5 separate regions of the Homo sapiens genome follow, and regions 2, 3, 4 and 5 are each linked to region 1. Evidence: fine-mapped expression QTL. A gene starts in region 1. Each other region holds a variant in brackets. All regions are shown on one strand. Distances are between the middles of the regions. Region 1 holds the start of STYXL1 (serine/threonine/tyrosine interacting like 1). Region 2 has its middle 53 kb from the start of MDH2. Region 3 has its middle 43 kb from the start of MDH2. Region 4 overlaps POR (cytochrome p450 oxidoreductase). Region 5 overlaps SRRM3 (serine/arginine repetitive matrix 3).

Region 1 (5,101 bases):
CTGTGATTCCCACCTACTCGGGAGGATGAGGCAGGAGGATAGCTTGAGCCCAAGAGTTGGTTGCAGTGAGCCAAGATGGCGCCACTGCACTCCATCCTGGGCAACAGAGTGGGACTCTGTCAGGTCCATCCTGGCCAACATGGTGAAACCCCATCTCTACTAAAAACACAAAAATTAGCTGGGCACGGTGGTGCGCGCCTGTAGTCCCAGCTATTCGGGAGGCTGAGGCAGGAGAATCGCTCCAACCTGGGAGGTGGAGGCTGCAGTGAACCGAGATCACGCCACTGCACTCCAGCCTGTCGACAGGGCGAGGCACTGCATCAAAAAAAGTAAATAAAATTGGTACCCTCTTCCCTAACACAAGCACCCTACAATCCCCATTTTTCTTGCATGTTCATCACTATTTTAAGATACTTTATAATGAGTGGGGCAATAAGTAAAATATCTAGTAATTTCCGTGAGAGCAGGGACTTCTGTGTTTTGTTCACCGCTGTATTTCCAGTACCTAGCTCAATAAATATGTCGGATATCTGAAGGTCCTACCAAAACTCAACCTCTCCCTGGACACCCCTGTCCTCTCTTTGGTTGGCTGCCCCTCCCCCACACCTCATCCCTCCTGTCCTGTTTACTCATTCCCTAAGACCTTCATCGCCTCCACCTGTCCTAAGTTTACTCATTCCCTAAGACCTTCATCGCTTCCACCTGTCCTAAGTTTACTCATTCCTGTCCCATATCAAGTGTCACTTCTCACTTATCTTGGTATCCCCTGCAGCACCCAGCATAGTTGTTGGCAAGCACAGGTACTTAATGTACTTATCTGTATACAGCTGGGCCCCCACTTCACCGCAGCGCAAAAGCATTTGGTACATTCAACTTACAATGGGGTTGCCTGTGGGAACCCATTGCAAGTTGAAAATACACAAAGTTAAACTCGCCTTTTGACTTAGGATATTACCAACTTGCGATGGGTATGGGAAGTAGCCATCAATCCAGGAGCATTTGTATTTATTTTTCAAATGAACTGGATGTACAGGAAACTCGAGAACTTCGATGATAAATTTGGATTCCCCTTTAAAATTACCTCCCTCTTGGGCGTCGTAATTAAAAGGCAATGCGAGCACCTCCTGGGTTCTCAAAATTAGGTTTAATTAGATTCACCTGGTAAAAATGCGGACCCCCCCCCCCCCCCCCGCAGTCTTAAGCTTCTTCAATGAACCCAGACGTCTGTTTTTTATTAGCTTTCTGGTGATTCTGACACACTGCAGAGTTTAAGAACCACCATTCTAGAAGATGGCTAAAAATAGCCTAGGCTCCTAGGCTTAAGTGGTCGCGGGCCAAGTCAAGCACTGTTAAGACACCTGGCGGCAGGCTCAGTCCGCCCACAGCAGGAGAGATCCTCCAAAAAGGTTAAGAGGAAGCCGTCTTCAGGTCAGAAGCGCTGAATTCTAATCCTCTGGCCAAATGACTGTAACCCTGGCCCAGTTCTCTAGCCTCGGTTTGTCCATACTATGGAATTAGGAAGTATACGATTTCTTTTATTCACGCACAACTCACACGGATGCTGCAAGGAGATTAGCTACGTCAAAGCAATGGAACGCTGCAGAAAAAAACGTAAGTTTACTTTCAGATGCAGAGCCCTGGTTTCCCAACCTTGAAGGCGTGCAAGCCAAGAGCAGGTCCTCTGGGAAATCTGGGAGACCTGGGGGAACCCTGACAAATGGACCGGCCCTGGAGCGGGACTACCTCGCCCCCTTTTCCCCGGCTTTCTCCCCCGCACCTCCAGGCCAGTGTCAGGGCCTGCCCCGGGCGCCACAGTCTCCAGCCAGTGCCGGGCATCCCTGCGGTCCAGGCTGGCCTGGAGAGGGTCAGAGCTGCCCGCGAACCGGGGACGCACGTGGCCCGGGCCGGGGGGCCTCCGCCTGCAGGCCGCCCCTCGTCTGGCCTACCTGGGCCGAGGTGCTGAAGCTGCGGCGGAGAGCAGCGCTGGCAGGCCGGGCGAGGGCGGAGAGCATGGCTGGAGCGGGAGGGGCACCGACTGGCAGGCACAGGAGCTGGTGACGGGGAAGTGACTCCAACGACCTCCACACTGCCCAGCGCCTGCTCTCTGGGGCCTCGCGAGAGTGACCGGACTTCCGGTCGCGCTCGCCTCCGGGATCTCGTGAGATCACGGCCACTTCCGGGAGTCGGAAAGGAAAGCTGTGGGACCATCCTGGCAACCCCGGTGTTTGGCTGGGTTCTAGCGTAGCCGTCTGTGTGGCCGGTGGGGGACCTGCGGTCGGAGTGGGAGGGCCAGTCTGCACCCAAGAGGTGGAAGAGGACGGGCTTTAGGCTGGAAGCGCCTTAGAGGAGCCATTTTTCCAGGTGGGGCCCCAGGCAGAGGCTCCGACAGGGAGCCTGGCCATAGTCGCGCAGCCGGGGAGGTGGAGCGCGTCCCAGACCCGAGCCCCCGACCTCAGCCAAACCCATTCCTTCTGCCCTTGGAGGCCAGAGGGGACTCTGAGCTCCGGAAAGGTAGGGTCAGGGAGGCTGAGAGTCCTTAGGCGGGGTGGGAGGAAGGGGCCATCTCCTCAGATCCGGGCCGTCGTTTCCCAAGTTGCAGAGACCCTTGGGTTCAGGTTTAGTGACACCACTGCTGATAATGGCGACCTCCAGCCCTGCAAGCTTTAGAGGACCACTATTCTGTGTTCCAGATGAGCAAATAGGTTGTAGGGACAACAACTTCCGTGGTCATACAGTTCCTGTCTTCTCTCGCCTGCCCGGCAGTGCTCTGACGGTCCCACTGTTTCTGCTTTACGAATAAAGACACTGTGGCTGAGGCCAAGTGGATTTGTAGAGTTTACGCAGACAGAAAGTCGAGTAGAATTCCTTGCTCACAATGAGTTTATTACTTAAATGTATGAATTTATTTATTTTTTTGAGACGGAGTCTCTCTAGCCCAGGCTGGAGTGCAGTGGCGCGATCTTGGCTCACTGCAACCTCTGCCTGTCAGGTTCAAGTGGTTCTCCTGCCTCATTCTCCTGAGTAGCTGGGATTAGCGCACCACTACACCTGGCTAATTTTTTGTATTTTTTTTTTAGTAGAGACGGGGTTTCACCACGTTGGTCAGGCTGGTCTCGAACTCCTGACCTCGTGATCCACCCGCCTCGGCCTCCCAAAGTGCTGAGATTACAGGCGTGAGCCACCGCGCCCGGCCTGATACATATTTTTAAAATTAAACAACACCCCCAGGCAAGGTGGCTCATGCCTGTAATCCCAGCACTCTGGGAGGCTGAGGCGGGCCGATCACTTGAGGCCAGGAGTTCATGACCAGCCTGGCTAACATGGTGAAACCCCATCTCTACTAAAAATACAAAAATTAGCCCAGCGTGGTGGTGTACACCTGTAGCCCCAACTACTCCGGAGGCTGAGGCAGGAGAATCGCTTGAACCCGGGAGGTGGAGGGAGGTTGCAGTGAGCCGAGATAACCCCACTGTACTCCAGCTTGGGCGACGGAGAAAGACTCTGTCTCAAAAAAAAAAAAAAAAAAAGCCGGGTGTGGTGGCTTATGCCTGTAATCCCAGCACTTTGGGAGGTCAAGGCGGGCAGATCACCTGAGGTCAGGAGTTTGAGACCAGACTGGCTAATGTGGCGAAACCCCATCTCTACTAAATATACAAAAATTGGCTGGGCATGGTGGCGTGTGCCTGTAGTCCCAGCTACTCAGGAGGCTGAGGCAGGAGAATCCCTTGAACCCAGGAGGTGGAGGTTGCTGTGAGCCAAGATTGTGCCATTGTACTCCATCCTGGGTGATAAGAGCTAAACTCCGGCTCAAAAGCGCGCGCGCGCGCGCGCGCACACACACACACACACACACACACACACACACACACACACACACACACACACACACACACACACAGCAGATAAGCTGAGACATGCTGGAAGAGTAGGTGTTTCTCAATGGAACATTCAACTCCAGAGGAGGGAAAGATCCCTTGCCTTGGAATCAGAATTCTCAAAGGAGGGGCACTAGGGCCTGAGCATTTAACAATGGGAAATGTTTAGACAGGAAAGGAGGAGAAAAAAGGCCAAATAAAATCCTAGCGGGAAAAAATAAGCATAGGCCAGTATTCAGGGGACAGTGAATAGATCATTTATTTTGGAGTGGGGACATTAGGGCAAGCAGTGTCCTTTGTTTATCTTATCACTGACTGCATCTTCTGGTAATTATTTACTCCTCTGTCTTGTAACTGAGAGCACCTCAGAGCCAGGTATTAAGTCTTGCCAGGTACTAAGTCTTTCTTCTGTTTTTTTTGTCCAACATGCGACTGGGCTGAAAGGGCCTCAGTGAATTTGTGGAGAGTTGAGTGGTTTTAGGTACAGCTGGAAACAGCAGGTTGGGAAAAACTAGATTGTGCCGGTCCCATGAATGTTAGCTGAGAAGTTTGTATTTCATTTCTTGGGAAGCAAGTGTTTATCAAAGGTTGTTTATTTATTTGAGATGGAGCCTCACGCTGTTGCCCAGGCTGCAGTGCAGTGGCGCGATCTCGGCTCACTGCAACCTCCACCTCCGGGTTCACGCAGTTCTCCTGCCTCAGCCTCCCAAGTAGCTGGGATTACAGGTGTGCACCACCACACCTGGCTAATTTTTGTATTTTTAGCAGAGACAGGGATTTGTCATGTTGGCCAGGCTGGTCTAGAACTCCTAACCTCAAGTGATCTGCCCGAGTCAGCCTCTCAAAGTGCTGGGATTATAGGCGTGAGCCACTGCACCTGGCCAATCAGGCTTTTGTGACACTGCCAGAACTGTGTTTGAGGAAGATTAGACTGACCTTGTATGCTAAGAATTCCCAGGAAAAAAAAAATGGAGATTGTTTAGGAATCTATTCAGGGAGATTGTTTAGGAATCTATTTTATGGATGACAAAGGTCTGAATTACGGTGGTGGCCATAGAAATGGAGTGGGTAGGGCCAGTGTGGGAGAAGTCTCATGGGAAGAATGGGTAACAGTCTGTGCTCATCTGGGTTTGAGGAGTGAAAGAAAGAGGTGTGGAAAATACATAAAGAGGGAAGTCGGGTTATACAAAGGAGAGGAGAAAAATAAAGGAGGTTATACCAAAGGA
Region 2 (5,101 bases), 53 kb before region 1:
AAGATCGCTTGAGCCCAGGAGTTCAAGACCAGCCTGGGCAATGTGGCAAAACTCCTTCTCTACAAAATACAAAAAAATTAGCCAGGTGTGGTGGCGTGCACCTGTAGTCCCAGATACTTGGGAGACTGTGGTGGGAGAATCACCTGAGTCCAGGAAGTCGAGGCTGCGGTGAGCTGTGACTCTGCCACTGTACTCCAGCCTGCATGACAGAGTTAGACTTTGTCTCAAAAAAAATTTTTTTTTTGGCTAGGCGCAGTGGCTCATGCTTGTAATCTAGCACTTTGGGAGGCTGAGGCAGGTGGATCACGAGGTCAAGAAATTGAGACCATCCTGGCCAACATGGTGAAACTCTGTCTCTACTAAAAATAACAAAAATTAGCTGGGCATGGTGGCATGCGCCTGTAGTCCCAGCTACTCAAGAGGCTGAGGCAGGAGAATCGCTTGAACCCGGGAGGCAGAGGTTGCAGTGAGCCGAGATAATGCCACTGCACTGCAGCTCAAAAAAAAGAAAAAAAATTTTTTTTAATTAAAAAGTTGTAATATCTAAAATGAGCAAAATCACTGTGTGCCGCCGAGGCGGGTGGATCATCTGAGGTCAGGAGTTCAAGACCAGGCTGCAGTGAGCCGAGATTGCACCAGTGCTCTCCAGCCTGGGAGAAAGAGTAAGACTCCGTCTCAAAAAAAAAAAAAAAAAAGGAAAAATGCATTTAAAAAGGACAGCATCAACCAGGTACAGTGGCTTATGCCTGTAATCCCAACACTTTGGGAGGCTGCGGGGAGAGGATAGCTGAGCCCAGGAGTTTGAGACCAGCCTGGGCAACATGGTGAAACTCTGTGTCTACAACAAAAATTGGCCAAACGTGGTAGCATGCACGTGTAGTCTCAGCTACTTGGGAATCCTGGGGGCAGGATTGCTTGAGTCTGGGAGGTTGAGGCTGCCATGATTGCACTACCTACTCCAGCCTGGGCAACAGAGCAAGACCTTGTCTCAAAAAAGAAAAAAAAATGCAAAAACAAAACAAAAGAGAATAGCATCATTTCCTTATCATTAGTTTGAATGAAGTGAGTCATTGGTAAAAGTTTCCATTTTCAAAAAAGGCATTAAAATATAGTGTGAGGCCAGGCATGATGGCTCATTCCTGTAATCCCAGCACTTTGGGAAGCTGAAATGGATTGCCTGAGCCCAGGAGGTTGAGGCTGCAGTGAGCCATGTTTGTGTCGCTGCACACCAGCAACCTGGGCAACAGAGCAACACTTTGTCTCCAAACAACAAAACGTGGTTTACCACAACCAACAGGAAAAATCTGGATAAAACTGTATGAAATATTTACTGCTGTGCTCAACATGGTAGTGTAGAGATCAAGGGCAAAAGTCCTGGGGTCAGGCCACCTGGTCTGCTGTGTAATTAGCTGTGTCATCTTTGGAAAGGTAGTTGAACTCTCTGTGTCTTAGAATTCATTTTCTAAAATGTGGGCGGGGCGCGGTGGCTCATTCTTGTAATCCCAGCACTTTGGGAGGCTGAGGCGGGCGGATCACGAGGTCAGGAGGTCGAGACCATCCTGGCTAACACGGTGAAGCCCCGTCTCTAGTATACTAAAAATACAAAAAATTAGCCAGGCATGGTGGCGGGTGCCTGTAGTCCCAGCTATACTCTGGAGGTCATTTTGGCTAATAACATAACTCTCCTTTTGAGTGAAAGGGTTAAAGTGTTCCTCTCAAAAGTACTTATTTTTTAAGCTTGTTCTTCAGATTTGGCCAATATCCTAAGCAAAATGCCTTCAATATGAAGTAAATATTGCTTGATTGTAGGGAACTTGTCCATAATGTACTTGAGAATGCAGATACAAATAAAAGAATGTCCGTGTCAGATTTTATTTTCCACAAATTATGTTCTCTTGCACTTTCAGCTTAAGTTCTTGGACTCACTGAGGCAGTAAAAGAACCATATCCTGTGTTTGAATCAAATCCCAAGTTCCTGTACGTAGAAGGTTTGCCAGACAGGATTCCCTTTCGAAGCCCTCCTGGTTTGGAATTCCATGACTTGAAAGGATCGTCCATGGGAGTAATAAAATCAAATTTGTTGGTAAAAAGTAAGTTTTAGGCCAGGCGTAGTGGCTCACGTCTGTAATCTCAGCACTTTATGAGGCTGAGGTGGGCAGATCACCTGAGGTCCGGCGTTCGAGACCAGCCTGGCAAACATGGCAAAACCCCGTATCCACTAAAAATACAAAAAATTAGCCGGGCATGGTGGCGGGCACCTGTGATCCCAGCTACTTGGGAGGCTGAAGCAGGAGAATCACTTGAACCTGGGAGGCAGAGGCTGCAGTGAGCCGAGATCACAACACTGCACTCCAGCCTGGGTGACAGAGTGAGACTCTGCCTCAACAACAACAACAACAACAACAATAAAAAAGTAAGTT[A/C]TATTTGCCACTGTAGTCATTTCTGGAATTAAAACAATAAAATGACATTTCTACTAAAATGTTTTTCTAGCTAGAAGTGACAGGTGTGTCTGTAAGTCCTTGATGGAAAAGCCTGGCTCTGAGCTGCAGTCCTGGCACTCTCCATTGCCCCTGCCATTCCCCATCCCATACTCAGTCATCTTCATCAGTGCAAGAATAGTGACCACTGCCTCCCCGATGTTCAGACACACTGTGGTGGCTTGCAGTATGCCTAAGTACTTGAATGAAGTTTAATCTGCTGGGTTTTATCTGCTCTGTTATTCCTGGGTCAATCTTATTAGCAAGTAAATATTGATGATTGAGTTTCTTTTCCTTTTTCTGAGACAGAGTTTCACTCTTGTTACCCAGGCTGCAGTGCAATGGCACGATCTCGACTCACTGCAACCTCCACCTCCCAGGTTCAAGTGATTCTCCTGCCTCAGCCTCCCAAGTAGCTGGGATTACAGGCATGCACCACCATGCCCGGCTAATTTTTGTATTTTTCGTAGAGACGGTGTTTCACCAAGTTGGTCAGGCTGGTCTCAAACTCCTGACCTCAGGTGACCCACCCACCTCAGCCTCCCAAAGTATGGGGACTGCAGGTATGAGCCACCGTGCCCGGCCTGATGATGGAGGTTTTTTTTTAATTATATCTGCGTTTCTGCAGAATTTTGGTGGCTGAAGAAAGTACACTAGTGTTAATTTTCTTTTTCATGAAAGAAGTAATTTACTTTTCATACAATTACTTGCCAGTCATGGGAAGGAAAAGTCAGGGTTTTCATCTACAATGATAGGAATTATTGTGACATTACAGGATGACTCTGTGAACACCTTTAGGAAAAAACCCTGGTCATATCACAACCGTTTTACTAGCTGTGAGGCCACCATTGTACTGGCTGCTGTAACATTTCTTGGTTTTCTTTCTAGACCTGAACTGGTTATTTCCTACTTGCCTCCTGGAGTTGCTAATAAAATAAACACTAAAGGTAAGAGATTACCTGTGTTTTGTATTATATTTCACTACATTAAGACATTCTTTATCAGCATTCCTTAAATCACACAGAATCATTGGCCATTCTCTTTGTGGGACTTGCAGTTAATTTCTTGGCTTTTTAAGGTATTTTATTTAATGGACCTCTTTTTCTTTAAAAAAAATTTTGTTGGAAGTGTCACATTTGCAATCCCACTTCATTCATGTTTCCATGGCTTTGTTGAGTCCCCTGTGGAGGATTACACTACAAGTTTAATTCTGCAGGTTTCTTTGAAAAGAGCCAAACTGAATGAATTTTAATACTCCGCTCTTATAAAGCATTTCCTTCTGTATTTTTTTCTACAATATACTAAAGTAATTCTGTGCTTTATTTTATAGCTTCGCAGTTTCTAAAAAGACCATGAAGCCCTGAGAGTAATGAAAAGGTTCCTGAAATTGAGGTCACTGTGGAAGGTAAGGGCCAGTCCTTGGCATGTTTCTGTTGATTCTCCAGTTTAATAGTTATGTCAATTCACTAGCTACATGTTTATACAGATGAAGGTAACCAAACTAGTTTTACCTGTGAACAGCTGCCTGTGATAAAGCTAAATTTCTGAATGTCTTTAATTGAAATTTTGAAAATTATTAACAGGAAATAAATAACATGGATCACATCATAAACTGCACTCAAGAAAATCCCTAAAATGCTTTTCCTTTATTACAACAAATAAGGGTGCAGAGGGTCACATGGAATGTTTCATCTTTTGTCTTGTTTTTTCTGTTCTTTTAAGGAAAGAAAGTTGAGGGGTGGTTTAAAAAGCAGTGCCTGGAATGAAAGTATTTCCTACAACATCCTCTAATGTACTTCCTTCTCTCCATGCCCACGGGGTCTGCAGGGTTCTCATCTTTTCATGTTCACAGTATTAAAATACTTCCTACAATACCAAAGACAGTTCCCAAACAACCATCAAATATGGGTATTTCTTCCATCTCCTCATAAATGCAAAAGGAAATAACCGCATTAGGATCATTCTTTTTTATTTGGAGATGAAAGTCTCGCTCTGGCACCCAGGCTGGAGTGCAGTGGCATGATCTCTGCTCACTGCAGCCTCAGCATCCCAGGTTCAAGCAGTTCTCCTGCCTCAGCCTTCCGAGTAGCTGGGACTCCAGGTGCACACCACCACATCTGGCTAATTTTTTGTATTTTAGTAGAGATGGGGTTTCACCATGTTGCCCAAGCTGGTCTCAAACTCCTGAGCTTAGGCAGTCTGCCTACCTTGGCCTCCCAAAGTGCTAGGATTACAGGCGTGAGCCGCCACGCCCAGCCTAGGATCATTTTTTTTTATGTCCTAGGTGTCGATTTTTTAAATAAGGGTTTGCAGTACTGGTGTTTAGTGGTGCAGTAATTTCCATTTAATAATCTGGCATACTCAAAGAGAGGATACCAGATGACTTAAGAGTATACCTCACAGAGAGTATACCAGATGACAGAGTATACCAGATGACTGAGAGTATACAGAGAGTATACCAGATGACTAAATGGGGATTAGAGTATTTAAACTCTTCATTCATTCATCCTGTTAAAGGAAAGCTTACTTAATAACATAAACTCTTGGTTATGAATTAGATGTTTCTCCTATGAAAGCTTGTGGGCATCTTTGAGCAACTTAATACCTGACTATTTCTGTTCAAA
Region 3 (5,101 bases), 43 kb before region 1:
CAGGAGGTGAGTAGAGGGTGGGCGAGCGAAGCTTCATCTGTATTTACAGCTGCTCCCCACGTTACCACCTGATCTCTGCCTCCTGTCAGATCAGCGGCAGCATTAGATTCTCATGTGAGCACGAACCCTATTGTGAACTGTGCATGCAAGGGATCTATCTTGCTCTGTCCTTAGGAGAATCTAATGCCTGATGATCTGTCACTATCTCCCATCACCCCCAGATGGGACCATCTAGTTGCAGGAAAAGAAGGTCAAGACTCCCAGTCATTCTACATTATGGTGAGTTATATAAGTATTTCGTTATATGCTACAATGTAATAATAATAGAAATAAAGTGCACAATAAACGTAATGTGCTTGATATATCCCAAAACTGACCTTTGCTGCCCCCAGTCTATGGAAAAACTGTCTTCCACAAAACTGGTCCCTGCTCCCCCAAAAATTGGGGACCGCTGCACTCAACACAGAGAGAAAAACAAAAAGCTCAAGTCTTTACCTCTCAGCGTAAGTCATGGTCTAAGATCCAGAGAGCTTCCATGATAGCCCAAACACAATTCCTTATTTCTTGTATCCACAGGGCTAATATTATTGGAAATCAAACACAAACTTAAATGTGTTGGTTGCTGAATTACAATGACAGTTGAATTCACTGTCACCAAGGTTCTCATGAGAATGTTAGGGCACTAATAAGTGAAGAATGGGATCTTTTTCTTTTTCTTTTTTTCTTTCTTTTTTTTTTTTTTTTTTGAGGCAGTCTCCCTGTGTTGCCCAGGCTGGAGCACAGTGGTTTGATCTTGGCTCACTGCAGTCTCAACCTCTCAGGCTCAAGCTATCCTTCCGCCTCAGCCTCTGGGGTAGCTGGGACCACAGGTACGAGCCACCATGCCCAGCTAATTTTTGTGTTTTGTAGAGATGTGGTTTCATCGTTTCATCACATTGTTCTGGCTGGTCTCAAACTCCTGGGCTCAAGCCATCCACCCACCTTGGACTTCTAAAGTTTTGAGATTACAGGCAGGAGCCACCATGCCCAGCCCTTTTCTCTTTTACACTGGTTTATTGTGAGGGCCTCCAATTGTCTTTCTGACTATTAGGCTTGCTCACTTCGGCCTGTTCACTGAAGCCAGAGGAATTCTCCTAAAAGGCAAATTTGGGTCAAAATAGTTCTTGATTAAAACCTGCTGGTGACTGCCCATTGCCTTTAAGACGAAGTCCAAACTAATTTGGCCACAGGGCCTGGTAAGAGCTGGTCTCCGCTCACCTTCCCAGTTTTATCCTGCACCACCCTCCCCAAATCCCTACCCTCCAGCCACAAGGAATGTTAGTTTCCTTGGGGGACTTTACTGGTCCTTCAGGAAACCCTCTTCCTACCTCCATCATCACTTTTTCACTCTCATCTTTGCTCATTTTTAGCCTCAGCCAAGATGTCTCACCCCACTCTCTCTGATGCAACAAGAAGCCCCTGGAGAACGTTTCAGTCCCATTTTGTACTTCTGTCATGTGCTCATCACAGTCTGGTAAGTGTTGGCCTGTGATTCCTAGATTAGTCCATTTTGCATTGCTATAAGGAAACACCTCAGGCTGGGTAGTTTATAAAGAAAAACAGTTTATTTGGCTCACAGTTCTGCAGACTATACAAGTAGCATGGTGCCAGGCTGGGAGCAGTGGCCCACACCTGTAATCCCGGCACTTTGGGACGCTGAAGCAGGAGGATTGCTTGAGCCCAGAAGTTTGAAACCAGCCTGGGAAACATGGTAAGATCTTGTCTCTGCTAAAAATAAAAAAAAAATAGCCAGGTATGGTGGTGCACTGATGCATTCCTGTGGTTTCAGCTACTTGAAAGGCTAAGGTAAAAAGACCTGTTTAGCCCAGGATGTCAGGGTTGCAGTGAGCCATAATTACACCACTGCTCTCTAGCCTGAGTGTCAGAGTGAGACCCTGTCTCAGAAAAAAAAAAAAGCGTAGTACCAGCATCTGCTGGTGAAGACCTCAGGAGGCTTCCTCTCATGGCGGAAGGTGAAGGAGGAGCCGTCATGTCACTTGTTGAGAAGAGGGAGCAAGGGAGAGGGGAGGAGATGCCACTCTCTTTAAACAATCAGCTCTCACATGAACTAGTAGAGAGAGAACTCATTCATTACCTTGGGGAAGGCACCAAGCCATTCATGAGGGATCTGCCCCCACGACTCACACACCTCCCACCAGGCACCACCTCCAACATTAGGGATTTAATTTCAATATGTGATTTGGAGGAGACAAACGTTCAAACTGTATCAATTTCCTGCTACCCTATAAGCTCTGCGAGGGCAGAAACTTTTTTTTTTTTTTTGATACGGAGTTTCGCTCTCATTGCCCAGGCTGGAGTGCAGCGCCGCAACCTCAGCTCATTACAACCTCCGCCTCCTGGGTTCAAGCGATTGTCCTGCCTCAGCCTCCTGAGTAGCTGTAGCTGGGATTACAGACATGCACAACCATGCCCCGCTAATTTTTATACTTTTAATAGAGACAGGGTTTCACCATGTTCGTCAGGCTGGTCTCGAACTCCTGACTTCAGGTGATTCACCGGCCTCGGCTTCCCAAAGTGCTGGGATTACAGGCATGAGCCACCACGCCCGGCCAAGGGCAGAAACTGTTATACCTTGTTCACCGCTGTTTCCTGGGCACCTATTATAGTGCCTGGTATATAGTAGGAGCTCAAGAAGTGTTTGTTAGGGCCTGATGTGTTGGCGCAAGCCTGTAATCCCAGCTTTTTGGAAGGTGGGGGCCAGAGGATTGCTTGTGCCCAGGAGTTCAAGGCCAGCCTGGGCAACGTAGTGAGACCCTGTCTCTAGAAAAAATAATAAACTGGCCAGGCACGGTGGCTCACACTTGTAATCCCAGCACTTTGGGAGGCCGACGTGGGCAGATCATCTGAGGTCAGGAGTTCAAGACCAGCCTAGTGAACATGGTAAAACCCCATCTCTACTAAAAATATAAAAATTAGTCAGGCATGGTGGCATGCACCTGTAATCCCAGCTACTCGGGAGGCTGAGGAAAGAGAATTGCTTGAACCCAGGAGGCAGAGGTTGCAGTGAGCTGAGATCATGCCACTGCACTCCAGTCTGGGCAACAGAGCGAGACTCCGTCTGAAAAAAAAAAAAAAAAAAAAAA[AAG/G]ACAAGAAAAAATAATAAATTTAGCTGGGTGTGGTGTTACATGACTGTAATCCCCGCTACTTGGGAGGCTAAGGTGGGAGGATCACTTGAGCCCAGGTGACGGAAGCTGCAGTGAGCCATAACGAAGCTGCAGTGAGCCATAATCATCCGCCTGTACTTCAGCCTGTGTAACAGAAGGGGACTCTGTCTCAAAAAAAGTAAAAAAAAGAAAAAGAAATATTCATTGGGAAAATAAAAAAAGAGTGAACAAGCAAAGTTTCAGGAGAGTACTGTGAATGTGGGTCGTGTCAGTAGAGTGTAGGGAGTTGGGCAGGAGCGGCTGGACTTGAAGAGCAGGTTGGTGGAGACCAGGTCATTTATCGTAAGCAGTTTGCCCTGTAGCATGTAGATCAAATATCCCACATTGGCTGCTGGCGACTGAACTGGGCTTCCTGTTTCTGTGTTTGGTTTGACCATCACAGTGTTGAAGAACTATTGAAGTGAATACCTTGCAGTTTGCTACAGTTCCCCCTGGTCTCCCACATTACTCTGGCCTCATTCCCTCCTGTAGGTTGCCTGACCTGCTGAGACCTGTGTTTGCTATCCCTGCAGATGGGTGGGTAGGAGGTGATTTAAGGAGGAAGATTTAATATATGAGTTATAGAAAGATAAATAGACTGGGCACAGTGGCTAAAGCCTATAATCCTAGCACTTTCGGAGGCGAAGGCGGGAGGATTAGTTTGACCCAGGAGTTCAAGACCAGTCTGGGCCACATAGTGAGACCCCGTCTCTACAAAAAATTAAAAAATTAGCCAGGCATGGTGGCATTCACCTGTAATCCCAGCTACTCAGGAGGCTGAAGTGGGAGGATAGCTTGACCCCAGGAGTTGAAAGCTGCAGTAAGCAGTGATCTTGCCACTGCACTCCAGTCTGAGTGACAGAGTGAGACCCTATCTCAGAAAAAAAAAAGCAAGAGAGAGGTAAATAGATCTAGCATTGGTGGGAGTGTGCTTTTGAGTGCTCTTTAGGAGAAATTTTTATTTTAATATTTTTTTCTTCTTTAAATTTTTTATATTCCAGCAGGCTGGGTCCATTCTCTCCCCTTTAATTTCTCAAACACAAAGCGCCCTGCCAGAATCTCAAGTTGGATCTGCAGTAGATCACCATTAACATAGCAGCCTGATATGTTGTAAGTCCTTATGCCAGGAACTGTGCAGGATACAAAATGTAAGAGAAGGCTGGAATAGAGCATCTCTGGGGGAAACGAGAGCCAGAGATACAGCGGTGTCCCATGGAGACAGCCAGCTGGTGTTCGGTAGTGCTTTGTGGAAAGGCTGTACTTTGGTAAGGTCTCCACATCTGCAATGTGGCCTTCAATATTATAGGTCCCCAAACTCCAGGTTTTTACATTCCCTGCATAGGTCAGGGTTGTAGGGAGTGATTCACCCTAGCAGAACTCCCTGGTTTTTAAGGCAGGTGTTCCATTTATTAATTGACAAAGGATGCAAATTTCTCCTTTGGTAACCTGATGAGTTAGGTCTTTTCCCCAGGGACTCCCTTTCCACCTGAAGTTTCTTGGAAAACTAAGCAGAGGATGAGGGAAAGGCTGTGAACAAGCTTGCTGGTCCATCCCGGTCCTAAAAAAGAGCATACGTCTTCTGTAACCAGAAGACCTTTTTCACTAGTCAAGGCTGGGCAGACTGAGATGAGGTGTGTGTGTGTGTGTGTGTGTGTGTGTGTGAAGGCTGGGCAGACTGAGATGAGTGTGTGTGTGTGTGTGAAGGCTGGGCAGACTGAGATGAGGGGTGTGTGTGTGTGTGTGTGTGTGTGTGTATGTTTTCTCACTCTGTCACCCAGGCTGGAGTGCAGTGGGATCAGAGCTCACTGCAGCTTCTACTTCTGCAGCTTCCACTTTGATCCTCCCACTTCAGCCTCCAAAGTAGCTGGGACTATAGGAATGTGCCCCCGCACCCAGCT
Region 4 (5,097 bases), 63 kb after region 1:
AACCTGGCCCAGGACCCTCAGTGCAAGGAGTGGCAGGTGAGCCGGGGTCCCTGGACAGGATGGATGGGGGGCCAGGCCCATGTCCAGCCCTCACCCTATTCCTCCGGCAGGTGCTTATGTGCGGCTTTCCCTTCCTCCTCCTTTTCCTCGGCAATTTCTTCACCACCCTGAGGGTTGTGCACCACAAGTTTCACAGTCAGCGGCACGGGAGCAAGAAGGATTGAGGCTGGGCCTTCCCCTGCCGGCCCAGAGGGGCTTCTGTCCTGTGTGTTGTGGGAGGGGATGGGAGGCGCCCCTCGAGTGTGCGTGTATCAGGGGGTCTCTTCTATTCTCCCTTGGGTTTTATGGGCGCTGTGGGCCCTGAAGGAAGACCTGGGCCCAGTGCCCTCAATAAAGAGAGGCCCAGAGGTGGCCTGAGCGTGTGTGTTCTCCTGGGGGAGGGGAGGGCTGGGTGGCCCCACCACATGGGTTCCTGGGGTCTGAGTTAGTTAAGTTGATGCAGGTGGAGGTCCCAGATCTACTCACACAATACCAGGCAAATACAGAAAACAGAACTTTATTCCAAGGGCCAGAGGTTATTTAAAATTATTTACACTCACTGGAAATCACGTGGAGGGGCTGGGCCCAGCTCAGCAGAGAGAAAGAGCCCTTCTGTGCAGCCACCGAGGGCCAGAGGCCTCCAGAGGCATGGAGCCCGGTGCCCCCATGCAGGCCCTGGGCTGTGCTGCCAGGGGCCGGTGGACCTCACCTGGCCTGGGGGCTGAGGAGGATGCACCCCAGGCCCAGAGGAGTCTTTGTCACTGGGCCTGCGCCCATGCCAAGGCCAAGCCAAACACACCCAGGAGACTACGGGAGGGAGCCAGGAGAGCTGATTACAGGCCGGAGTCTGTGGGGTGGGTGGGGCAGGCAGGCCCCTAGCTCCACACGTCCAGGGAGTAGCGGCCCTTGGTCATCAGTTTCTTGATGTAGTCCACCGCCTGCGCGTGCTCCATGGCCCCGAGCTCAGCCACGATGTCGTAGAAGGTGTTCTGCACATCCCTGGCCATGTTCCGTGCATCCCTGGGCAGGAAGAGGGGGTGCTGGGGGCTGGGCCAACTGTGGCAGGCAGGGCCTTGTCCTCCCTGCCCCCTATTCCAGTGACCCCACTCACTCACCCACAGACGTAGATGTGGGCACCGCCTTCGATCAACTTCCACAGGTGCTCTCGGTCTTGCTTTAGCAGGTGCTGGACGTAGACCTGGGGCCAAGGGTGGTGCTGTGAGGGGGGCACTGTGGCTGTGGCCCTGCCAGCCTCATGCCCACCTTCGTGGGTGCCCGCCCGTCTCACCTTGTGGGACTGCTCCCGGGAGAAGGCCACGTTGAGCTGGGTGAGCGCACCGTCCCTGTGGAACTGCGCCAGCTCCTCCCGGTACAGGTAGTCCTCATCCGAGCGGCGGCAGCCGTAGTACAGCAGCGTCTCCCCCACCTCCTTGCCTGCGTGGCAGGGGCCGGGGTGAGCGCGGGGCTCCCAGTCGTCACCCCCTCTCCCCCATGGGACCCCACTCACCCTGCTGTCGCAGCCAGGCCCGCTCCTGGATGAAGCCTATGAAGGGTGCCACCCCGGTGCCGGGGCCCACCATGATGACAGGCGTGGTGGCCTTGAAGGGCAGGCGGAACTGGGACTTGCGCACGAACATGGGCACCAGCGCACGGCCGCCGTTCTCCCCGGCAGGCTCCTTGGCCCGCAGCCAGTTGGTGGCCACGCCCTTGTTGATGCGGCCAGCCTTGGTCTCGTACTCCACAACCACCGCACAGATGTGCACAGAGTTGGGGTGGACCTGTGGGGAGGGCCGTGTGAGCTCCACCGCCACACCGAGGCCCTTGCCCAGCCCCGGCCCCAAGTCCCGTTCTGCAGGCCAGCCCCACTCACCCAGGGCCTCTTCCAGCCCACCTGGCACCCAAACCTCAGAGGCCCCCTCCCCAGCGGCTTCCCGGACTGGTTCTGGGGACCGGGGCTGGACAGATGCTGAGAATCTCACAAGCCAGCCCGACTGAGTCCACAGCCTGGGGAGGCATTTGGAGCTGCGCTGGGGCTGGAACTGGAGCTCAGGGCTCAGATCTCGGAGCTCCTGTGCCGCCTTGCACTCTGCCTGCTGTGAGCAGGGCTGGGCCTCCAGCGTGTGGCTGGCAGGGCAGTGCCGGCCCTCACCTTGGAGGATGAGGCGATGGAGTAGTAGCGGGCCTGCAGGCGCGGCAGCAGCTCACACAGGTGGTCGATGGGGGGCCGCAGGGACGGGCAGTCCTGCAGGATGGCCAGGATGTGCCTCCGGGCCTCCACCACCCAGCTCAGGTACAGCTCCTAAGAGACACGGGGGTGAGATGGGGCTGATTGGGGCCCACGGAGCTCGGAAAACGGCGGGGTGACGGGGCGGAGGTTGCGGGGGCT[G/A]AGGGGGCGCACCTTGCCCTCGCCGGAGGAGGAGGCCATCTTGCGCAGCAGCTCCTGCTCCGAGGGCTCCGAGGCGTACTGCGCCAGCTCGTACAGCACGTTGGTACGCGGCGGGTTGGTGATGTCCAGGTAGTAGGTGAGGGCCGTGCGGTAGGACGTAGGGCACGGGAATGGGTGCTTCTTGTTGGACTCCTCTGCAGGGAAGAGACAGGCAGGACTTGGGGTAGGCGGCCGCCTCCTGGGGATGGGTGGCTGCGGCAGGAGGGGGTGACACCTTGGGCCAGCTCTGCGGCAACAGGTGCCCCAGCTGGTGCTGGAAACAAGGCCTATGCTCTCTGATGCCTCCCTGGCCCTGGGGCCAAGTCTGGGGCCTCCAACCAGACAGGAAGTCCTCATCAGAGGCAGGACCCTGCTAGGGGAGGTGCGGGGGAGCCCCTGCACACTAACGCACCCGCTGTGCTTTCACCGCACACTACACGGTCTGACACAGCCCCGCCCAGGCTTCCCTACAGGCGGGCTGTGGAAGCCGACAGTAAGGGCAGCCCTGGCATGGCAGCTGAGGACCGGCAAGCAGGGGTGGGGCGAGGTGGGCTCGGCCCAGGTTGGTGACCAGTGGGGTCCGAGGGCTTCACAGCGGGAGGCTCAGGCTGGGCAGCCCCACCAGGCCCAGGCAGCCCCGCGTAATGGCTACTGCCACTCGGCACCACTGTGCACCCTTGGGGGCCTGGGAGGGCTGCTGACTCCTGACTTCAGTGAGGAGGTGGGGGCAGCCCCAGGCCGGCAGAGGTGGGTCGTGGAGCCAGGCCCTCCTTCCCAGCAGGACACAGTGGCCATGGGGGAGCCAGGGCTGCCTCTGCCACCAGGCCTCAGCACCTCACTCCCTTAAAGGACTATGACAGTGACGGGGTAGGGGGAACCCCGACAGAGAGGGCTAGACCCCTAGGGCCACCCCGCCTCCCGTTTGCTTGGGATCCTGTAACCGTGGAGTCTCGGTGCAAGGGCCTCCCAGGCACCGGGGCTTCAGGCCTAAGCAGAAGCTCAACCCAGGGCCTTCCTACAGGCCCAATCCCGCGGCTGCCTGAGCCCGGCAGGGCGCCCTGACTGTGGCACTCACCATCCAGGTTGTTCAGGGACATGACGACGTCCAGGTCGGCACCCAGGATTTTGCCCAGCTGGTTGACGAGAGCAGAGTCGTTGGCTGGGTACACAGCCACGTGGTCCCCAGATTCATACCTGGAGGGAGATGTGAGGCTCGGGAGGGGCGGAAGGCTGGCCCTGCCCCAGGTCAGGAGGCCCAGAGTGAGGGTTCAGGGGGTGACAGTGGCAGCTGGTACCTGATTTTGGAGTCCGAGATGTCCAATTCCAGGTGCATGAGGTGGCGCTCGGTTCCCTGGTTCAGCTTCCGGTTGGTGGTGACTGCAGCCAGGAACGGATTCTTGGCATCAAAGGGGCTGGGTGGGGAGGAGAGAAGCACAGTGAGCGGCCGGGGCTTTGATCTGAGTCTCCGTCTCCAAGGACGCTTCTGGTTGCACAAAGCACAGGGAATCTCAGAGATCTCCATGAGGAAATCTCACCGGTTACATCAAGGGCTCTCCCAGCCTGGTCCAATGCAGTTCTCTTTTTTTTTTTTGAGACAGAGTTTCGCTCTGCCACCCAGGCTGGAGTGCAGCGGCGCGATCTCGGCTCACTGCAACCTCTGCCTCCCAGGTTCAAGCAATTCTCCTGCCTCAGCCTCCTGAGCAGCTGGAATTACAGGCATTCGCCACCATGCCTGGTTAACTTTTATATTTTTACTAGAGACGGGGTTTCACCATGTTGGCCAGGCTGGTCTTGAACTCCTGACCTCAGGTGATTCACCCACCTCGGCCTCCCAGAGTGCTGGGATTAGAGCTGTGAGCCACCTCGCCCAGCCCTAATGCAGTTCTCTCTATAGTCCCACCACATGGGCAGAGCTGGGTCATCAGTGTCTGTTTACAGATGTGGAAACTGAGGCTGGCCCCTAAAAGAACTGTGAGGCCCAAGCTGACGGTGCCACAGGCTGGAAGGTGGCTGGTCCCCAAATGAGGAGCACAGCTCCCCCACCCCCACACGTCCTGGACTACACCGTGGACAAGAGAGAAACTTGCACTCCGGAAAGCCACCGACATGCAGGGCTTCTCGCTCCAGCCAGGCTGGGGCAGGCCTACAGAAAGCAGGGCAGCTGGTCTTGGATGCAGTGGCACGAGGACTTCCCTGGGTGGCTCGGGCAGGAATCTGGGCAGCAACCAGGGGCCATCAAGGGCACAGAGAGGAACGCCAGGTTTCTCCCCCAAGTCTATCTATGGAGATAGATTCTAAGAAAATGAGCCCTTCTGCCAAAGAGGATCCTAGCCACAGAGGCCAATGCACTGTCCTAGTCGAGAAGTGGGATGTGCCCCGCTGCCCTGGGCAGTGCAGAGTAAGGTGGCTAAGTGAGCTCAGTACAAACTGGGCGAGTGCCAGTCTCCTGGGGCCGGGCCGTGGACAGGTCGTGGACACTCACACCCACTCGGGGCACGGGGTCTGGTGAGAAGGGCCCTGTGGGGATATGGGGATACACGGCAGACTGAGCCTGGGGTGCACCAGTGGCCATAGAGCCGTCTGCCCCAAGCCACGCTCCCTCCACTCACGGCTTCTGGTTCTCGTAGCTCTTC
Region 5 (5,101 bases), 180 kb before region 1:
ATTCAAGAAATAAATGGGCCAATCTGGCAGGGTTTGTAATTGACTGGATGTGGGATGGGGGAGGCAGCTTAGATGACACCGGGTCTCTGGCCTGGGTGACCAGGTGGATGGTGCAGCCATTTATTGTGATGGGGAACACGGAGAACAAATTGGAGGTGCTTGAGGGTGAGGGGTTTGCAGGGGCAAGCAGGCAGATATGGAGTCTAGAGCTATAATCTGAACCCTAACTCTAACTTGTTCTGGTCTTTGGGGGCATTGACACTGTACTTCTTTGGAGGCAGAGCAGCACATGGGAAGTCTTTACCCTACCACTGATTGGCTGAGAGCAGCACATGGGAAGTCTTTACCCTACCACTGATTGGCTGAGAGCAGCACATGGGAAGTCTTTACCCTACCACTGATTGGCTGAGAGCAGCACATGGGAAGTCTTTACCCTACCACTGATTGGCTGAGAGCAGCACATGGGAAGTCTTTACCCTACCACTGATTGGCTGTGAGACCATGAACAAGTCCCTTCCCCTCTCTGCACCCTTGTTTCTCCCACTGAACAATGACTCAAAGACCCCAAGGGTCCTTTCCTACTCTGGAAGTCTGGGTAATACTAACTCTAAGTGTGTGGCACCAGGCTGGGTGTGGTGGCTTATGCCTGTAATCTCAGCACTTTGGGAGGCCGAAGCAGGTGGATCACCTGAGGCCAGGAGTTTGAGACCAGCTTGACCAACATGGTGAAATCCTGTCTCTACTAAAAATACAAAAATGAGCTGGGTGTGGTGGCACATGCCTGTAATCCCAGCTACTTGGGAGGCTGAGGCAGAAGAATTGCTTGAACTCAGGAGGCGGAGGTTGCAGTGAGCTGAGATCACACCGTTGTACTCCAGCCTGAGGAACAAGAGCAAAACTCCATCTCAAAAAATAAAATAAATAAATAAATAAATAAATAAATAAATAACACCAGACCTTCAGCCCACTTCCTTTCTGCTGATACAGCCAGGAGCCGGGGCCCCACCGGCCACCCTTAGAGTTCAACTGAGGCTGTCCCCAGCACTGGGTCAGCTCCCAAGGGCAAGCCCAGATGCTGGAGCCAGCCAAACCCATGTGTAGATTAAGTCATGAAGCCCTAGTTTAATGCTTGCCAAAGGGGCACACTCCTTCTTCTACAAGCCAGGAAGTGGTTAAAAGCCTAGAGGCCTGATTTCCCAGCCTCCTGGCTGGGTCCCTGGAGTTGCCTCCCTCCCACAAGCCCAAGCCTGGGTTTCCTGAGCAAGCCTGGGTGTGGACACAGTGGGCCACAAACTGGATGCTGCTACCTGCAAGTGATTAATTGAAGGTGAAACAGCTCATCTGTACTGCAGGGTCCAGCCTGTTTCGGAAAGTCAGCTGCTGACAGGCACAGAGGCCTCTTAGCTAATGAGGTCAGCACTCACCCTGGGGCTCAGAGGGAGAAGATGCTCAGATCGTAGTGACCTGGTCAGGTCTGGGGGAGAGGGAATGGGCTGTAGTGAGAAGTGGACCACAGATGAGTCTGGGAAGAGGCCCAGCCCTGCCCTGGGGACCCCTGATTTGAGAGGGAGACAGGAGAGTGATCTTTGGGAATTCATAAGCTGAGAGACCTAGGGCACGTGACTTCAACTCTCTGGGTCTCAGTTTCCTTGCCTGTAAAATGAAACTATTTAATAATAGCATCTTCCTCATAGGTTTGTTGTAAAGGACTAATGCATGGGAAATGCCCTCACAGTACCTAGTATGCAATGAATGTCTCGTAAAAGGCACTGGAGATTAATTATTATTATTATTATTGTAGAGACAGGGTCTCACGTTGTTGCCCAGGCTGGTCTCAAACTCTTGGCCTCAAGTGATCCCCCGCCTTGGCTTCCCAGAGCACTGGGATTACAGGAGTGAGCAAACTCCTCCCTGCTCCCCTTGTCTCTGGCAGCGTCGCAGTCCTCCAGCACCACGGACAGCACCCCCATCACCAGTTCAGGGGGCCCCATTTGCTGCCGGGGCTGAGAAGCCTCTTTTGCCGGGGAAAGGGGCGGGGGGGGCGGGGAGGGGGGCAGCACCGTTCCTCTAGGGGCTTTTTTTTCCTGGCCTTGCCAGCCAGAGGCATGCCTCCCCAGAGGTAATGTCAGGACTCAGAGCCTCCACACGCTCAAAGGTACAGATTCCCACAGCTTCAAGTAAGCACTTGAGCACTTCGTCTGTGGTCACACAATTTAACCACCTTCTTACTTCTAAGATCTTTCTGCTGTCTTCTACTGGGGCCAGGAAAAAGAGTGTTAGACCAGGACAAGGACTTGGAGTCAGAAGACTTTAGCTTAAATTCTGGCTCCACTACTTCTGCCTGGGTGATCAGGAAAAGTCATTAAACTTCTCCGAGCCTCAGTTTCCTCATCTGTAAAATGGAGTGTTGGGATTCGGTCAGGCTGGTGGAAAAAATATTAGTTATGATAGCCACAAAACCCTTTCGGAAGGCCTGAGGGTTTTCACATGACTTCGGTAATAGACCGGGGCGAAGGTGGGCTGGTCCCATTACCTTCAGTTAAATAGATTAGAGTAGTAAATAACGGGATGTGGGGAAGTTATCTAGTTAACTTGTTTACTCATGTGGTCTCAAGACGAGCCTTTGATGTGTGCTTTTTACTCGGGAAGTCCTCAATGTCAATTACCTCTAATGGCGCTGACTCAAGCTTTTGTTAACTAATCTTAATGAATAAATGTGAGTCTCCCTAGCTGATCGGGGCGGCCACAGTGACAAACCTCTCTTGGTGTGTAGGCGGTCACTCAGCAGGACTGGCAAAACAGAATCTCTGTGTATCAGTGTACGTTTTATTCATCATTTGGGTCAGGGTCTGTGGGCAGACCCTCGTAGCTAATACCCTCTTGTGAGGAGCAATACCTCGACGGAGACAATATTCCCTAGTCTTGTAGCTTGTAGCTTAGTGGGATCATTCATTCATCCTTTCTTGCGGTAACAGGCTTGTTATGAAGAGATTCTGATGCCATTCTCCCACCCACCCACCCAGTCCTGCAGGAGCAAAAAAGAGACCAGGGAGGCTCTACCTTTGCCTAGGATGGTCAGGGAAGGTTTCATGAAGAGAATGATGTTAGA[C/A]ATGTGCCTTTGAAAGATGTGTCTTTGGCCGGGCGCGGTGGCTCATGCCTGTAATCCTAGCATTTTGGGAGGCCAAGGTGGGCAGATTGCCTGAGCTCAGGAGTTTGAGACCAGCCTGGGCAACATGGTGAAACCCGGTCTCTACTAAAATACAAAAAATTAGCCAGGACTGGCAGTGTGCGCCTGTACTCCCAGCTACTCAGGAGGCTGTGGCAGGGGAATCGCTTGAACCCAGGAGCGGAGCTTGCAGTGAGCTGTGATCGTGTCACTGCACTCCATCCTGGGGGACAGACCAAGACTCTGTCTCAAAAAAAAAAAAAAAAAAAAAGAGGGAAGGGAAGAGAAGGGAGAGGGAGAGAGGGGAAGTGGGGGCAGGGGAGAGGGGAAGTGGGGGCAGGGGAGGGGGAATTGGGGGGAGGGGAGGGGATGCTCTGTCAAAAAAAAAAGAGGGAAGGGAAGAGAAGGGAGAGGGGGAGGGGGGCAAGTTGGGGGAGGGGAGGGAAGGGGTGGGGAGGGAAGGGAAGGGAAGGGAAGGGAAGGGAAGGGAAGGGAAGGGAAGGGAAGGGAAGGGAAGGGAAGGGAAGGCAAAAGCCAAGGGCATGTTAAGATCCAGGGACCCTTGGCTAAGAGGGCTACAGTGGAATGGAATTTATGATCCAGGAAACTGCATTCCTGTGAAGGTGGTGGCTGCAAACGCAGGATGAGACCTTCCAGAGAAAAAGCCCAGTGTGGTGACAGCAGGTGGGCAAGGATGTGCCTCCTGAGGAAAAAGATTCTTTCCAACTGTCAGAAACGAGACAGAACTGATAAATACCCATGAAACCAGGTCCTTAAGTTGTGAAACTCATTCTGGGTCTTGTTAAAAATAAGTGTGTGCAACAATCGTTTGTCAAGATACTTTATCAAGCTGGAAAAGAAAAGCCATCTGCATCATGTCCAAGGAATCTAGGTGTGTCCCCACTCCAAATCCTGGCATTGAAGCCAGGTGCAGCCATGACAGGGACATATTCCCTGGAGCACTCTCCTGCTGACCCTTCCCTTCCCTGTGTAAGGACCCTTCTGCAGACCTCCAGCCTTGAACACTTTATATTGAAAGCTTCCCCTGTGCTCACTGCCCAAGAGCGTGGGGCTGGGGGGGTAAGGACCAGAGGACCAAGAGACACCCCATCAACTTCAGGGTTGGGTCATTCATTCAGGTCACAGCTATTTGTGAGTGGCTACTCTGGGGTTCACCAGAGGACACGAGAGAAATGCAGAAGGAGAAGCACTGGTGCTTATCATGCTGGGGATGATGGATGCATGGCAGAGACATCTAACAGCTGGGGTGCGTCAGGAGAGGAGCATAGCTAGGAGGTCTCCCTGGAGGAGAGATCTTGAAGCATAAGTAGGAGTTGGCGGGACAAAGGAGGAGGAGAAGGATGTCCTGGTCAGGGTGTGGGGGTGAGCAGGAAGAAGGCATGGAGAGGAAAGAGGGAAAAGCATGGACTTGAAGCTGGGCGCGGTGGCTCAATCCTGTAATTCCAGCACTTTGGGAGGCTGAGCCAGGAGAATCATTGGAGGTCAGGAGTTCGAGACCAGCCTGGTCAGCCTGGCCTGTCTCCACTAAAAATACAAAAATTAGCCAGGCATGGTGGCGGGTGCCTGTAATCCCAGCTACTTGGGAGGCTGAGGCAGGAGGATTGCTTGAACCCAGGAGGCAGAGGTTTCAGTGAGTCAAGATCACGCCACTGCACTCCAGCCTGAGAGACAGAGGGAGACTCCATCTCAAAAAATTAAAAAAATTAAAAAAACAAAACAAAACATGGGCTTGTCTTGCTGAGCCCACTAAGCCAGGAGGGGAGGGAGGGCCAGGTCCCCAGGGCCTTCAGACTCAGGCTGAGGACCTAGGACCACACCCTGCAGGCAATAGGGAGCCAGTGAAGGGTATTGAGCTGGGGAGGTCAGATTTGCATTTTGGAAAGATCTCTCTTGCAACTTTTTTTTTTTTTTTTT

What was found.
Region 2: its variant is fine-mapped to the expression of STYXL1 in lung (GTEx, PIP 0.97).
Region 3: its variant is fine-mapped to the expression of STYXL1 in macrophages (Nedelec 2016, PIP 0.95).
Region 4: its variant is fine-mapped to the expression of STYXL1 in whole blood (TOPMed, PIP above 0.99).
Region 5: its variant is fine-mapped to the expression of STYXL1 in whole blood (TOPMed, PIP above 0.99).

Annotation. Positions count from the first base shown.
Region 1 is chr7:76,045,072-76,050,172 of GRCh38, reverse strand. It overlaps STYXL1 (serine/threonine/tyrosine interacting like 1), which reads left to right and starts at 2,173. Exons shown (of 9, transcript NM_001317785.2): 1 at 2,173-2,511. It overlaps MDH2 (malate dehydrogenase 2), which reads right to left and starts at 2,067. Exons shown (of 9, transcript NM_005918.4): 1 at 1,947-2,067. The coding sequence starts at 2,012. RefSeq lists enhancers at 1,136-1,917, 2,193-2,272, 2,383-2,472, 1,918-2,700 and a silencer at 1,783-1,942.
Region 2 is chr7:76,098,221-76,103,321 of GRCh38, reverse strand. It overlaps the pseudogene GTF2IP7. Among named protein-coding and RNA genes, the nearest start is that of MDH2, 53 kb to the right of the region's middle. The variant A/C (reference allele first, on the strand shown) is at 2,421.
Region 3 is chr7:76,088,475-76,093,575 of GRCh38, reverse strand. It overlaps the pseudogene GTF2IP7. Among named protein-coding and RNA genes, the nearest start is that of MDH2, 43 kb to the right of the region's middle. The variant AAG/G (reference allele first, on the strand shown) is at 3,144.
Region 4 is chr7:75,982,299-75,987,395 of GRCh38, reverse strand. It overlaps POR (cytochrome p450 oxidoreductase), which reads right to left. Exons shown (of 16, transcript NM_001395413.1): 8 at 5,074-5,097; 9 at 3,760-3,876; 10 at 3,540-3,658; 11 at 2,438-2,619; 12 at 2,189-2,338; 13 at 1,547-1,817; 14 at 1,328-1,473; 15 at 1,155-1,237; 16 at 541-1,059. The coding sequence ends at 915. TMEM120A (transmembrane protein 120A) reads left to right here. Exons shown (of 12, transcript NM_031925.3): 11 at 1-36; 12 at 111-565. The coding sequence ends at 224. Among named protein-coding and RNA genes, the nearest start is that of TMEM120A, 9.7 kb to the left of the region's middle. RefSeq lists an enhancer at 3,428-4,627. The variant G/A (reference allele first, on the strand shown) is at 2,426.
Region 5 is chr7:76,222,414-76,227,514 of GRCh38, reverse strand. All of the region lies in intron 1 of SRRM3 (serine/arginine repetitive matrix 3), which reads right to left. Among named protein-coding and RNA genes, the nearest start is that of SRRM3, 23 kb to the right of the region's middle. RefSeq lists a silencer at 1,837-2,037 and enhancers at 2,382-2,886, 4,225-4,725. The variant C/A (reference allele first, on the strand shown) is at 3,110.